2 linked regions of the Homo sapiens genome follow. The protein of the gene in region 1 interacts with the protein of each later gene in a pairwise test. Each region holds a gene or a part of one and is shown on either strand. Other genes may lie near its edges.

Region 1 (7,563 bases):
TCACAGCTACAATCTAGTTTAGCTGAACCCTGTCCTAAACAGATTTGAATCAGCTCAGATAATGGAGGAAGTTTGTTGCTGTCATCATTTCAGCAACTATCAGTCCAGGGATTTCTGAACATCTGCTTGCTCAGGAATAGCCTTAAATGTCCTGTGCCTTTTAAGGATTTTTTCAAAAGTAATCTTAAATTATTTTTAAACAATGATCTTAACTTGCATGTAGAGCACCTCTGCCAATCAGAGGTCATTCCTCAACTACTGTACTGACATTAAGAACTGGGCTGTGAAGCTGGAAATGCTCTGTCTCCTGCCCTTTACCCAGAAATGCTAATATCAACATCCTACATGACCCCAGATTACAGTTTGACAGGACTGATTTCTGCTGTTTATTCTCTTGCCCTTTACCACGTTCTCACACATTAAAAAAATAAATTGACGTACCTTACTAAATAAAGCTAGGTATAAACTGGATCTGAGGATTATAACCACCAATTACCACATCCCAACCCCTGCCACCCCTCAGTCATGCTGTACACCCTGGAATCAGACTTGTCAGGTTCAAATCAGACCTCTTATTATCTGTGGCGATTCTTGAGCAATTACTTAACTTTTCTGCACCTGGATTTTCTTATCTGCCAAATGAGAATCATAATAGTGCCCATCTCCTAAAGGTATTTTGAGGATTAAATAAGATGACACGTATACAAAAAATGTAGGACAATGCCTGGCATATAGGAAGTACTTAATTAAGAGTTCAAAATCATTGTCGGGGTTGATTTTAAACAGATATGTACTTCCTGTACCCACTCACCAGTCCTTCTGGATACCAACTCGTAAAGCTAGAAAAAAAATTATAGAAAATATCTCGCACTTTGGGAGGCCGAGGCGGGCGGATCACGAGGTCAGGAGATCGAGACCACGGTGAAACCCCGTCTCTACTAAAAATACAAAAAATTAGCCGGGCGCAGTGGCGGGCGCCTGTAGTCCCAGCTACTCGGGAGGCTGAGGCAGGAGAATGGCGTGAACCCGGAAGGCGGAGCTTGCAGTGAGCGGAGATCGCGCCACAGCACTCCCGCCTGGGCGACAGAACGAGACTCCGTCTCAAAAAAAAAAAAAAAAAGAAAATATCTCAACCTTTTAACTTACAGAGGACAAGCCAAACTGTTGAGTAAAGTGACCAATCTGAATTCAGTCTGCTTGTCTTTTTCCAGTCCTATCCACAACTCCTAGTGAAGGACTGGGGTACTTTTCTGTATTAAGTGAGTAAAGGTGAGTTCTTCTGCTCTACATACACACACACAGGTTAGTTTTGCTCTATATACACCCTCAAAAAAAAAAAAAGTCCTAGAACCTGCTGATATTGACAATCATTTAGTCTAACATTCTCATTTTAAAGATAAAAAAAAAAACTGGCTCTAGGGCCTAAATGACTTGCCTAAGTTCACATAAATACTTAGTGGGAGAGCCCAAGGCCAGAAAAATTATAATTCATACCCTAAGCAAACTATCCGATATTCTCTTCAGTCCACTGCAAACTTTACCTATTTTATCCTTATCATAACCCTCTAAAATAGGTATCATCTTCACCATCTTAGAGATGTGAAAACTGAGGCTCAGACACTGTGAAGTAACTCCTTTAAAACCTGACAACTGTCAACTGATACAATCAAGATTGACACGCTTCTTGTCTGGCCTCCAAGGATACATGTACCTGTTTCAAGTTTTCCAGAGCTTAGTTCTGAGAATTCTAGTGCCAGCTCTCAACCAGTAACTTTCAAACCACCTGTGCATCAGTCTTGCCCAGGTAACTTTAAAAAATACAAACTGCTGGGCTTCATCTCAGGAAGGACAATCAGAGTCTCTGGAGGAAGGGCTTCAAAATCTATATTTCTACAGAGACGGTAATTCTGATGTGTAGGGAGGTTTGAGAAACCCTAATCTAAGCAAGATATTTTATGACTGCTTCCAGTACAAAATGAGAGGGAAATGAGTTACCTAAGGCTGATGGAATGTTCAGAGCAGCTGAATCTATGTGAAGGGTAGCATGGTGACCTCCTCTCAAATCCTTCTGTGTCACACAGACATACACCCAGCCCCAGTAACATAAACATATACAGCCAGCCCTCCATAATCAGAGGTTCCGCATCCAGGGATTTAACCAACCAAGGATAGAAAATATTAGAAAAAGGGCCAGGAGCGGTGGCTTATACCTGTAATCCCAGCACTTTGGGAGGCCAAGGCGGGCCAATCACCTGAGGTCAGGAGTTCAAGACCAGCCTGGCCAACATGGTGAAACCCCGTCTCTACTAAAAATATGAAAATTAGCCGGGTACAGTGGCATGTGCCTGTAATCCCAGGTACTTTGGAGGCTGAGGCAGGAGAATTGCTCGAACCCAGGAGGCGGAGGTTGCAGTGAGCTGAGATCACACCACTGCATTCCAGCCTGGGCAACAGAGAGATACTCCACCTCAAAAAAAAAAAAAAAAAAAAAAAGAAAGAAAGAAAGAAAGAAAAGAGAAGAAAAGAAAAGAAAATATTGGAAAAAGGATTGCCTCTATGTTGGATATTTTTTGTCATTAATCCTTAAACCATAAAACATAACAATGATTTATATCATATTTACATTGTATTATGTATTATAAGTAATCTAGAGATGATTTAAAGTCTTCACGAGGATGTGCATAGGTTATATGCAAATACTACACCATTTTATATAAAAGACTTGAGCATGATGGAATTTTATCAGTGGGAGGTCCTGGACCAATACCCCATGGACACTGAGGGAGGCATGACTGTATATATCTAGGAAAGCTTTAACTCCTATTGATCTTGCCTAAAGGGATCTCTATCACAATGAAAACAACAAGTGTTGCATTTTGCAGCAGTACAGTATGTATTTTGTTGGAAATACAGCAATAAGGTTTCCTTTCATCCTAATCATTTTCATTTAAAGCATCTAAATCTGAGCTGTGTTTTCTTGGTACTGAGCTAAAAAGCAATGTGGAAAACTGTTTGAATCATCACTTACCAAGGTGCACCGTATATCCTGAATCCCTTCACTGTTACCTCCGAATCTTGTAAGTAAATACTGTTTGTCAGGAGGGACTGAACATTGTCAAAGTCCTCTGGTTTCAATTTGGACACAGAGGGGAAACGGTAGTAGTCCTGTTTAACAAGGTCTGCCATGAATTCCTTATCAAATGTCAGTTCATGATTCCCAGCAATCACTATTTTATATTCATATGGCAGGTTTCCTGAAATAAGAAAAAAGAGCACCAATTAGCACGTTCATTTCCCATCACAAAGTACAACAGCCGAGACTGTGTGATTAGCAGACAGCTCACCCAAATGAAATAGCTCGCAAATTCCTTTACATTTCCATGTGAACTGGAATTTATGACTACTACTTTATGCTAACAAAAATGACAATAACGGGAAATAGGAAGCTGCTAAGTAGCTAAAACGTTGCTAAAAAGACATTAAGTTTTCTAGTTCCATTTCCCTCTTCTGTATGCTATGTATTCATTGTGATGAATCCACAGGGTAATGAATCCACACTTTATATTTATCCAGTAAAAAGCTCTTTAATCACGATCCTTAAGAGAAGGTCTGTACCTAGTTTGGTCCTCAAAACATAATCTAACCAACTATTCTTAACAACTTAGATAACTACTAGATTTTTAGTATATGCTTCATACTAAAGACATGGCATAGTCAAACATTCCATAATTGACATACATTAAAGGAACCAGATAGTATAATTTCATATTTCAACTCTAATTTTAAGTTTCCTTTTTGGGTTGTGAATAAAAAGAACATTAGTAAGGGCCCCCTGATTAGAAGGCTAACTTTCCTCCTATTGGGATGGGAGAAGAAACTGTAAAGTTTAACCCTCTTTTAATATTTATGGTATGGAAATGTGAGTTCTCAGTGTGTGCTTTTTATGCAAAAGTTTCCTGATCAAAATGAGATAATTCTGGGAAGAAGAATGAAAGCTATAAAGGAAAACCCAAACACCAGACTTCTGCATAGATTTATAATGTTTGAATAAAGTACGGGTCATACATATTAATAACTCACCGTGATGCTATAAGAACGAAAATCCAAAGGGAGATAGTGCCGGGCAGCTGTCCCCACCTGAAATTAATGTTCTTTTCCTTACTCTGTCACTACCCATCCCTCAAGCCTCACTGTTCATCTGCTGCTTTTTATTTTATTTTATTTTGGAGGAAAAAAAGAGTGGGACAATGGCACCTATAATTCCAGCTTTCTGAGACCTATGGGTCTGATGTGAAATTAATGTTTCCTGCTATTCCAGGAAGAATTAAAGTTACCACTAGCAGGAAATTGGATACACTTGTTGTAAGAACTGGTCCTTACCAGCAAGCCAGAGTCTCAATGATTTCATTAAGGAAACTTAGTGGGGAAGAGAATTTTGTGGGCGGGGGGTGGGGGGAGGTGAGGGGAGCAAGTTCCATCGTCAGTCCACTTGGATTTCAGCAATTCAAACTGTAAAGATTACATTGTGAAGTCCACACAGTCTCAGCAGCACATCACAAACATATTTGCTAATATTGAAGCAGTTTTTAAGACTGCCAAACCATGTTTTGTATATTACTGCCTTTTCTTTAGTTATTAATTGTTAGATTTCTGACAATAATAAAATTGCATATATAGCAAGGGCAATAATGGGGAGGCTTAAGAGAGAGATGAAAGCAGTCTGATAGAAAATAACACTGCAGAGAGAGGAAACCAGAAACGCTGAGGCCAAGCAGCAATGGATATCTTTGACTACTAGCCCACAGTGCTGTATGTCACGTCTTTGGCCTCAGTTATTTGTAAGGCTATGCTGAAGAGTTCAAAAAAGAATAGGAAGCCTCCCTCAAATGCATGTTTATGCGAATTTGGTAATTAAGAGTATGATGTACATAGCAAGTTGTTTGGATAGAATGGTGGTATCTTGCACAATTCCAGAACTTCAAGTGCAGATGAAAGATATATCAATAGGGCCACAAATTCCCAGTACTGCACATGCTGGAAATTTGTGAGAGACCCTACAACTCTAATATCATGGCTCTGTGACCCTATGAGTCTAATAGTGCTCCCCGCCCCAATTCACCTGTGCTCCCAAAGCCGGAACAGGCTAAAACGTTTTCCCAGACAGCAATGTCTTCCAAGGCCGGTCCTTACTGTGTGATTCTTAGAGCAGAAGATTTTACCTGTACAAGTCACACTGTAGTTGCCCAGTTCCCCTTTAATCATTCACGATGATGGGACTCACTGTAAACCCTTTCATTATGTGCCACCGCTCTTGCAGGAAGCCTGGGTTTCTCAATTTATCCTCGTTTTAGGGCTCGGGTTCAGGGACAGCGTGGGTGAGACTAGCCACTATGGCAAAGGAAGTATATTTTCCCCCTTCAGACTGGGTTTTTCCTTTCTTTCTTTCTTTCTTTCTTTTTAGTAAAACTGCTGCAAAGTAAATCTTTCTCAGAAAGACAAGCATCTTTGGTGTCTTTTAAATCAAATTTTGGAGACTCAGCATAAAAAGGTAGCCACCAAAATGAAGAGCCACAAAAAAGGTGATGATATTTACACATCACCAACAAACTCATCTTTTTCCGAGAATCCAGTAGTAGCTTCCAACTTCTATCCTCTGTTACCGATGTTATGAGATTGTCTGACATATTTTCTTTTTTGCTGAACTGACCTTTCATCTATAATCTGCCAACCTTTATGTTTTATATGAAAAGTGTAAACAGGGCAGCTGACAAATCTCCTGTTACTTGACGGCATTTTCGTTGTTTTTTTTTTTCCAGACTAGATTAATTGGGAAGGCCCTGCAGTCAAGCTTCAAACTTCTTGGTATTCAAATAGCAACACTTTAAAATTGTCAGGCAAAGAGGTGCCTGCCTTTTTCCATTTTATTCAGATCATGCCAGCTAAGCTGACCTGCTTGTATAAAAAAAACCAAGGCCATATATATACTCTAACATGGAAAAAAAATCCTTGCTCTGAATGACCCAAAGAACTCTACCAGCCGGGCACGGTGGCTCACACCCGGAATCCCAGCACTTTGGGAGGTCAAGACAGGCAGATCACCTGAGGTCAGGAGTTTGAGACCAGCCTGGCCAATGTGATAAAACCCTATCTCTACTAAAAATACAAAAATTAGCCGGGTGTGGTAGCAGGAGAATTGCTTGAACCCCGGAGGTGCAGGTTGCTGTGAGCCGAGATTGAACCACTGTACTCCAGCCTGGGTGACAAGAGCAAAACTTGTCTCAAAAAAAAAAAAAAAAAGAACGCTACCAACCAACCAGTTTCATCGTTCCCAAGGCATGGTCTATGTTCTACTAATGGTACACAAGATTATTTTAGGTGAAATGGAAAGGAACCTTTGACAAAATGTCAAATAGTTTTGTATTTTAAAACTACTTTTAAGAATGCATTGTTTGGACAAATACAATATAAAAGTATAAGTAATGATATATAGCTTCCTTTTTTCTATCTTTATATGTAAAATAAGAGGTAATTTCAAGAAAATTACTGAGCAAATAGTAGAGGTAACTTACAGGGACAATAAAGTGACAATGGTAGGAAGTGAATTAATGAGATGTGGAAAACTTGCTCATCAGTTCAGGTTAGAGCTACAGAATGTAAGTGAGACCATAAAAGAGGCAGTTATTTGAGTTTTATCTATTCTGTATCTTCTGCACTTAGTGGTGTCACATAAGTAGATACTCATGAACTGAAAGTCAACAGGGTCCTCGCTGCTACTTGACGTTCTAAGTGCCCCACACTCCAGCCACTACCTCCCCAAAGCAGCCATCACAAAATTTGTCCAGGTTCCTCTCTAGCTCCCAGGCTCCAACTGAGCCCCTCTCCAGACATGCAAAATACCCTCTAACCACATGTGTACAGAAGGAGGGAGGTTCTCTTCACTTCTGCCTTTTCACTTTCCCATCACACCATCTGTTTGCATCTTCTTATCTTTCTAACAGAGGTTGAGCATCCTTTATCTGAAATGCTTGTGACCAGAATCATTTAGGATTTTGGATTTTTTCAGATTTTGGAATATTTGTGTTACACTGATTGAACATTCCAAATCCCAAAATCCAAAATCTGAAATGCTCCAATGAACATTTTCACTGAGTGTCATGTCAGTGCTCAAAATGTTTCAGATTTTGGAACACTTTGGATTTTGGATTCTCATAGTAGGGATGTTCAATTTGCAAATTGGCCTCTTAATCTGATTCCTCCCACTCCCATAAGCACCTTCCTTTTCCAGGCATCTCCTCTCTTTGATATTTTGGGCCTCTCTCTATACATTGAATCCTCCTCCTTGGTGAGTTTATATTTACCCACTCCAAGAAAACAAAAACAAACAACCCTTGACACATACACACACACATACGTGCCTCAAACATGATCGTAAACATTCCTTGACTTTTTTGCTTCTTTGAGATGCTTCCTCATTTCACTTCTAAACTTCTTAAAAGAGGATTCCATAAGCTTGCTGCTGGTGGGACCAATTCAGCCCTCAGATGTGTCATGCTTAGCCCTCAA
Region 2 (8,279 bases), on another chromosome or scaffold:
GCTAAAGGAGTTCACTCAAGATCACATAGAGAGTAAGGGTAGGGTCAGACCTCAAACATGATTTTTATTATTGTAAATCCAGGTGTTTCTCCCCCCTAACCTACATTGCCTTGTTCTGAAAATTGAAGCGGATACTGTGAATACACTTTGAAAACTGTAAAATTATATACTAATGTGAAGCATCAGAAAACCCTTTTAAAAAATAGCTCTAAGTAATAAGTAATTTTTCAATGGCTCATTGCATGCTTTATACCAGTCCTTGTTGCAGCCCACTGAACCTTTCTCTATGCTTTGGTGTCAATATCCATCTTCCAAACCCAGAGCTATCCAGAATAGTGCCACAAATTACCATTTTAAACATGCGATGTCCTTCAGTTTACATTTGCAGATTTTGGTGAAATAGCATCTTCCAGTGAAGTCCACTGCGCTGGAGAGAGAAAGGTATAAAAAGACAGTCAGATGTACTTTACAAAAAATTTAATTGTGGCAAAAAATTAACAAAATTTACCAACTTAACAAGTTTTATGTGTGCAGAGCAGATGTGCTAAATATAATCACATTGCTGTGTAATGAATCTCCTGGGTTCAAGTGACCCTCCTACCAGAGTTTCCTGAGTAGGTGGAACTATAGGCGCCCTATACCACATTTTGTTTATCTGTTCATCTGTAGAATCAATGGACATTTGGATTGCTTCCACCTCTTGGCTATTGTGAATAATGCTGTTAATGAACATGGGTGTGCAAATATCTCTTCCAAGATCCAGTTTTGAATTATTTTGGATATGTACCCAGAACTGCTGGATCAGATAGTAATTCTACGCTTGATTTAGCACAAATTTTGTCAATCCAAAGAGCTGAAAGCTAACATAGAACTATAGTATATTTTTAAAGAGTCAGTTCATATTTGTGAGCTCAACATAAACATCTGACAAATTTTCCATTAAAAAAATTTTTATGTGTTCATTGATTCACATACATCTTAGCACGCTAATTCATTATTATTTTAACCCCTACAAAGAAGGGTAGAAAATGGGAAAAACATGATTCTATTCTAGACTTGGGTCTAACCTGTAACAATTCACCTAGCCTTCCTTATGACTGCCCTATTACTTACCATAGCTATTGCAAAGATGAATGGGTTAATATTTTAAATTTGTGTATGAGCTACTAAAAAGAAAAAGCAGTGGACAATGAATCACAGAACTTTGTAGCAGTAGGTTCTATGATTTATTTTCTAGTGTTTTCCCTTTTTTGAAATACATATACGATGTACACACACACAAATGTAAAATATTAACTTAGAATTTAAAAAAATTAAAAAGATTTTAAAATAACACATTTATCTCTGCAATAAATGAGAGCCTTTGGCTTTGCTGTTAGACATGATTACACTTAGACCAATTCAGAAAAGATTTCAAGAAAGGAAGAGTACACAGCTTTACCTGGGTAAATCAAAAAACTTGTAAAGTTTCTATCATTATCATGAAATTCATTTAAAATGAATTGTGGTTATTAACCTGCTTCCTCTGGCTCTATATCCAAAGACTTAGAGAATAACTGTCCACTCATATTTTGGATAATTACTTTCCTTTTAATAATAAAATTTCAATAAATAACTAAATTTTGAAGATTCATGTAGGGCATATATATGTTGATTATGGAAAGGGAAAGTACCATTTAGAGCTAGAAAGAGGTTTATTTGAGTCAAATAAAATGGCTATTTTACCAAATAGGAAGCAAATTCTTAAGGACTCTACACCCAAAAGCAGTTAGTGGCTGAAAACAAACAGATTTTAAAAGGGTTCAATTATGGGAACAAATGTGTAATGTCCAAAATAGTCTTTATTGGAGATAAGGATTAAGGCTAAGTCTCTATTTTTCATCCCATAAAAATCTATTTACATCTCTTTCAGAGAGAGAGAGTTTTGAGGAAAGAAAACTGAATTTGATGAACAACGGATCTGATTTAGGATGCCAATTGCAAATAATGATAGAAAACGGATTTTTTTTTTTTTGGTGCAAAATTTCATGGATAAAAATGAAAAACTTAAATGACCTCTCCTCTCCAACAGTACGGAAAATTTTGCCTGAATTTACCTAAAGTCTACGCCACGGACTTGATTCAGTGAAATAGGATGGTTGGGCAGGGCACTGAACCAGGGATCAAACTTAAGAGATGTGTGGTCGCATGACTGCAATTGAACTAGAAGCATTACATCAGGACTGACCACCTTGGCTAAACCACAGACTTTGTCCAGACAGTCTGCCCACTTAGATATATTCCAAGGGGATCATCAAACTGGTGGGAGTGGCTGAAACACCGAAATGATAACCTCCTTGTTGACTCCCACAGATCCAAGCCATAAGTGTTCCCATTTAGTTAAAAGCTACCGTTGCCCGCCACTAGCATGACTTACTTGGTAGGAGGGATGTCTGTAGAGAAAAGGTCTATTTCAGTATCAGCCAGCAAAACAGCCTTCATTCCCCTAGAGCTGAGCACTTGTTTACAGAATTTGCAACACAGGATGGACACGCACCTGTCCTTGAAACTACAAATGTTGGTAGACATGGCGTCGCAGGAAGGATGAGGTGTGGGATTTTGAAAAAGGAAACAAGAGTAATGCTCCTACTATTTTGATTCCCCTAGGCTAAAATTCAAATTGCGGGACCTAGAGCTTTTCTAAGTCCTAATATTGGGAAGGAAATTAGTTTTTTTTTCTGTTTTCCCGGTGGCGGAGTAGAAGAAGTATTTATTGAGTAGGAACAGGGGAGCGTGGCAAACTTGGCTTTCCTTTTAACTTTTGGAGAAGGGAGTGGAGTTTGAATTGGAGAGGAGGCAGGTGGAGTTTGAAGGGAACTTCTCAACGGCTTTCCCTTTCTGCTGTCTAAAGGAGTCCTCTACACTTCAGCTCCCGCCCCTTCATAGCAATTCCCTCAGCCTTCTCCGATCGTCTAATTTAAAGCTTCTCCTCTTTTAAGACATCCCTTCCCCAGCATTAAGCCCCTCCCCCGGAGCGCTCCGGTTCCCTGCTGTCGGATCTCGGGCTAAGCGTCCCTACCCACGCCTCCTCTTCCCAGGATTCAGAAACTCCCTTCTCTTTTTCTGCCAGGCGATCCCGGATTCTCCTCCGTCCCGCCCCTTTTCTCCCGGACCTTCCTCCGCTCTGCGGGTCCGCGGGCCCCTCTCCTGGCAACCCCCGGCCCTCAGCGTGCTCGCGCTGTTTCTCTCGCGTCCTCCCTTCCCTCAGCTGTCCCTCGTGCCCCCCGCAGTCCCCTCAGGTTTCTTCCCGGAGCGGCTGTTCCCGGGCGCGCGGTGGTGTTGGTGGGGCAGAGCTGAAGTCGCTTTAGAGGCTCAGTCGGCGCTGGGGTCTGTCACCGAACACGTTGGTTTTCGCTCCCTCTTCCGCTTTTCCTGCCTCTCCAACCCGGTATCAGTTTGAATTGCCAGCGCCGCGCACCGATTGGAAGAACTAGAGTTAGCCCCAGTCCCTCATTGGAAGGCTCCGGGGCCTCCCCTCACGAGAGCTTAGTGGCTTGAAGACCGTAGGCACCGCCCCAGTAACGGTGCTGAGATCAATTCGGCTTTCTGGTTGGCTGAGCTTGGCTCCGCCTCCGATCTCATTGGCCGGCTTCGGGAGGTTTCGGCAAACCCTGCCTTCGCCCTAGTGAAAGTGGCAAGGCACGCCCTTCCCGCTTCTTATTGGAAGAGGTTCTACAGTCTCCACCGGTCTCTACTCTTTATTGGTTAAAACTCCCCGCAACACCCCTCCTCTCTACCCCGGCCCAATTGGCCGTGCCTTAGCTCAAGAGTTTGTGTTTGGTCGTCGGTTCCACCTTAATCCCGCCCATCAGTTCTACTTAGGGGTTCAACAACCCGGGGTGGAGCTTAATCTGTGACCACGCCTCGGCAGTGCTAGTCACACCTCCAAGTTTTGCCAGCTCCTCCCCCTCATTCCGGGCCTCTCGGGATCAGCTCTTCCTATTGGCTATGGGCCCCATCGGTCGATAGAAAACGGGCGGTGATTGGTAAAGGGGTGGGCTCTACTTCCCGGCGGGGTCCTGCGGAGTTGGCGGAGGCTCCTCCAGGGACTGGGGCACCGATCTGCGTAGAAACGGGTGGCGGGGAAGAGAGGGGAGGAGAGCTCTGAGTGGGAAGCGGAGCCGGGGGCCTGGGACCCGTCGCGTCAGAGCCAGGTAAAGGCTCCTTCCCTCTTCCTTTTCTTCCTCCCGGCCGCCGGGCTGGAGCCCTGACTGAACAAACCGGGGCTGGGGCGGGAAGGAGAGGGCGCGGATGCTGCTCGCGGCATCGCCTTAGCGGTGCCGCCCGGAATCCCTCAGACCGCCCCCCCTCCACCCTCTCCAAATCTCCCAGTACAGCCCATAATACTTCTCAGGACTGCGAGTCTCTCCGCCCATCACTGTACAGCCTGGGACTCCGTCCTGGCTCACGGACCGCAGCGCAGCCGGCACCCAGCCGCCTCTCCCTTTCCTCCGCACACGGGCAGCCGCGGTCCACCGTAGGGCAGTCGTCGTTGGCATCGCGCGTAATCATCGGCCGGCCTCCTCCAGTGTCTCCCAGCCCTGGCGGACAGCCCGGGTCCCAGCCTAGGACCCAGGAGGATGGGTGTTCCGCGCAGCTTCCGGGGCTCTCCCCGAGTCCCACCCCCCGGCCCGCCCCGATGGACTTCTCTTCGCCCACTCCCATCCCTAGACCACATCTCGGCCCCCACAGTTCCTGACATCCTTGCGCTTCACGCAACATCGCGGCCCATGATCATGCCCCAATTCCCCTCACCTCTAAGGCAGCCTTCTCCTTGCCGCCTCCCGCCTTCCGAGCGTGTGCAACTCCAATTGTCCCCGGGCTCCCTTCCAGCCTCAGGACCCCATCTCACACCCGCCTCTCGCTTCCCGCTTCCCGCTCGCCTGAACCCCGCCGCCTCTGCTCCCTGTCTTGTTCCCTCAGCGTGGCCCCTTCCTCCAGCCGCGGGAAGTGGGAGACGCTAGCGGGAGCTTCCTCCTCCCGGCGCTCGGAGGAAAAGGAAAGACCAAGTAGAAAGGGTCGCCGCTGCGGCACGCGAGGGAGCTAGTCGCCGGGCTCCGCGCTCCCGCTTGCGTCCCTCCAGCCCCCTGGGCCTCGTCCGGGGCCGGATCTTCTCGGGCACCGCCTGGTGCGAGGAGTCAGGACTGCGACCTCACCGACCTCCTCCCATCCCCAGCCTGGGATTGGGTGGGATATCTGGGATCTCTGAGCTTGGGTGTCAAAAAAATATTGGGGGTGGCATTTATAGTCACTATCGTCCCTAGCTTGAGGGAGGCGACGGCTGCCTTCCGCTCGCCGCCCCCCGGTTTTCCCGGCTCCGACCCTATCCTCTAACCCGTTTCCTGCTTCAGCTGACCACATTGTTTTCCTGGATGTGTCCCGTGCCGAGCAGGCTTTTTCCTGCAGATTTGCCCCCCCCCCCATCAACATTTTGCTGCCAAGAGAAGCTAGTAACCAAAAACAAAACAACTGGGAGGAGGGGCGGGAGAGGAAGAAAAGTTGTGCCCTGGTGGCTTATCCCTCCCCGGCTTTGATCCCCTTTGATGTACAGGGAGGTGCCCCGGCCGGGGGTCTGGGGCCACGTCGGGGGCTAGGTCGGGAGGGCTCCCTCGGGCTGGCCGCTGCCCAGCGCTGGCGGGGCTCAGGAGGCCGCCGAGGTGCCGCAGTCCCCGCCTGGTGCCCCGCGTTCCTGCAGTCCCCGCCCGGAGCCCGCGCAGGCGGCTGCTCCAAAGTGTTTTCTTTCAGCCTTAAAATCCGGAGGGAGCTTCCTTCCTCCCCACCTCGTAGCGCCAGGCTCTGCGGGCGGGGAGACGTTAAGCGGACAGGAATGGGCCCAGGGCGGGCTCGGAACGACGTCCCCTACCCCACCCCCGCCGCGATTAGGATCTGCGCTCTGGCTGATCGCCCCCTCCCCCTTTTCCTGCATTTACAGGCAAGTGAACCGGAGCAAACGACTTCCGATCCAGTCTGCGCTGTTGCGGCTCCCGTTTGGGATTTGATTTGCAGCATCTTTGAGCCTCTACGACAAAAAACCGCGAAGCACGCCCAGCCCTCCCCCGGCACCCCGAAAAGCACCCACTCCCTCCCGGGGACACAGCTGGGCGCGTCCACACCCCCGCAGCCCCACACCATGTTGTGCGGAAGGACTTCCACTCCCCGCCTGTGTCGTTGATGTCAGACCCCAGGCCAGCCTCCGGGCGCTGCAGTTCTCCCGGCTAATGCTGAGGCTGCGGCTCCGGCTCTAGCACAGGCACCAGCCGCCGCCGCACCCGGCCCCAGCGCCCACCGTCTGCATGTGCCCGCCGTAGCCGTCTGCCCAGCCCGCAGCCCGCGCTCCACGGAGCGCTGGAGACCACCGTGGGGGGCCCCTTCTGCCCTCGAGAGAAGCGGTCTTGGAGGTATTGATTTAGGTGGTTGGATTTTTTCCGTGGATCTATCAATTCACAATTCGAATTTGGAAGAAAGAAGGAAAACATGACGTCTCCAGCCAAATTCAAAAAGGATAAGGAGATCATAGCAGAGTACGATACTCAGGTCAAAGGTAAGGGCTTTGAAAAATAGCACACTGCAAATGCTCTGTGGACTGGTGAGGCGTGTATTTCCACCGTGATTTGCAGGTTGTTCATTTCTTTGGGTGGAGCAGATGGGGGCAGGCTGACCCCAGAGGTGGTTTCATAGATGGGTCTGAACCTCCAAAGGATGGGCAATGCCAGGGGGCCATTGACACTGGAAAGGAATTTTTGCAGTGGGCTGTAGGAGTATCTTTGTGGGGCTGACCATGATTTTGGCAGCCCTTTCCCCCCCAAGCCGGACAGGGTGGGGGGAGGGGCAGGAGGCTCTTAGAGAAAGGCAGTTTGCCTCCGGTTCTCTGGGTCAGGTTTCCTTGAAAGACAACTGAAATCTGACAGGTGTTTGGACATTTGTTTCAGAGATTGAAGAGGAGTCCAGACAGAAAGGCAACCTTGGGAAGGTGTACCATTTGGAGAGCCTTGGGAGAGGCGGGGTTTTTCGGATGCACTATATTAAAACATGAGATTTGCAATGGCATTGGCACCAAAAGTCCATTGCCACCTTGGGTGTACCTTGTACCTGCCTGGTCTCTGGTCGGCCTGCATACAATCAGAGATCAGAGAATAAGGCCACCCACGCCCGGTCTCCGCCCTCACCTAAATCTGAATAGAGTTGGGAGGATGTTAGGGTAGCCGGTTGGTGCTGATTCTGGAAAATGGGAAGACATAATTGTTTAACCCTTCTGTGCTGTGGCCCTCTGCTCCGGAAGACATGCTTTTAAAGCCCCATTTCCCTCTCCTGAAAAATGTGAAGGGTAAAGCAAAATGTGGACTAGGAGAAACCAAGTGACCTGTCTTCTCATCTAGTCGACTGACTTGACTCATGAATAAGAGCCCTTACTCAGATAGCGTTTTTTAAACCAGCAGTTCCCATAGGAAGGGTTCCTGCCTGTTAAAGAGCTGCAGCATGTGTTTGTGCAAGGCACTGTCCCTTCCTGGTCAGTCACTGGAAAGAGCCATGTGGCTCCAGCCCATTGAGACCTTAGCTGGGGAGTGGAAGAGGTGGGTGGCCTTGAATGTTACACCACATGGTTGGAGCTCTGGGTTTTCCTTTGTTTCAGAGTACAGAGGGAGGGGCCCCTCCTTTCCCTGCACCAGTGCAAGGAGACCTTTTCCTATCAGAGAGGACTTGGGAAGGGCCATGGCTCCCCTCTAATGATTGCTGGGGGGTGGGGGTAGGTGTAGAGTTTGAAATGGGCAGCTCCCTTATCTCTTGGAAGGTTGGAAGGTAGTCTGAAGTCCTCATTGTACCTACAGGATCTTTTTTATGTCATTAGTTTGGTCAGTGCTGGAGGTGCCCTAAGGGGCCTTCTATCCACTTGGCTGCAAATATTGGTAGGTTTATTACAGAGATGGGGGAGTTGACTGATTGATAGCTTCAGTTGAACTGGGATTGAGAGAGGTGTGGTTGTGAGTTATTATTGAGGTCTTGGCCTCTTGTCACTGTTCATAATCCAGGCTTGTTTTTGTAAACAATAGGCCACTGGCCTCCATGTCCTGTCCAGATGCATTGCATTTGCTCTTGGAATCCCCCCTGCAGTTTTAACCAGATATGTCTTTTTTTTTTTTTTTTTTTAACACATCCTATTCTTAAACTGTTGCCATCGGGAGTGTTAATAACTTTGATCTTCCCAGATTTCTCTCCAGAAGCACGCCATTTGACTAAGGTGC

What was found. Proteins that work in one complex are often made in the same cells at the same time.
Region 2: the proteins of MPPED2 (region 1) and FAM72A interact in binary tests that used the Homo sapiens proteins (3 or more experiments, as listed by UniProt).

What each region holds. Positions count from the first base shown.
Region 1 is NC_000011.10:30,492,268-30,499,830, forward strand, and holds part of MPPED2 (metallophosphoesterase MPPED2), read right to left. Parts: intron 3,255-7,563; coding exon 3,029-3,254; intron 1-3,028. UniProt on the Homo sapiens protein: Displays low metallophosphoesterase activity (in vitro). May play a role in the development of the nervous system.
Region 2 is NC_000001.11:206,199,458-206,207,736, forward strand, and holds the start of FAM72A (protein FAM72A), read right to left. Parts: upstream 3,383-8,279; 5' UTR 2,569-3,382; coding exon 2,417-2,568; intron 428-2,416; coding exon 350-427; intron 1-349. Other genes in the region: SRGAP2 (SLIT-ROBO Rho GTPase-activating protein 2), read left to right, coding at 6,514-6,580. UniProt on the Homo sapiens protein: May play a role in the regulation of cellular reactive oxygen species metabolism. May participate in cell growth regulation.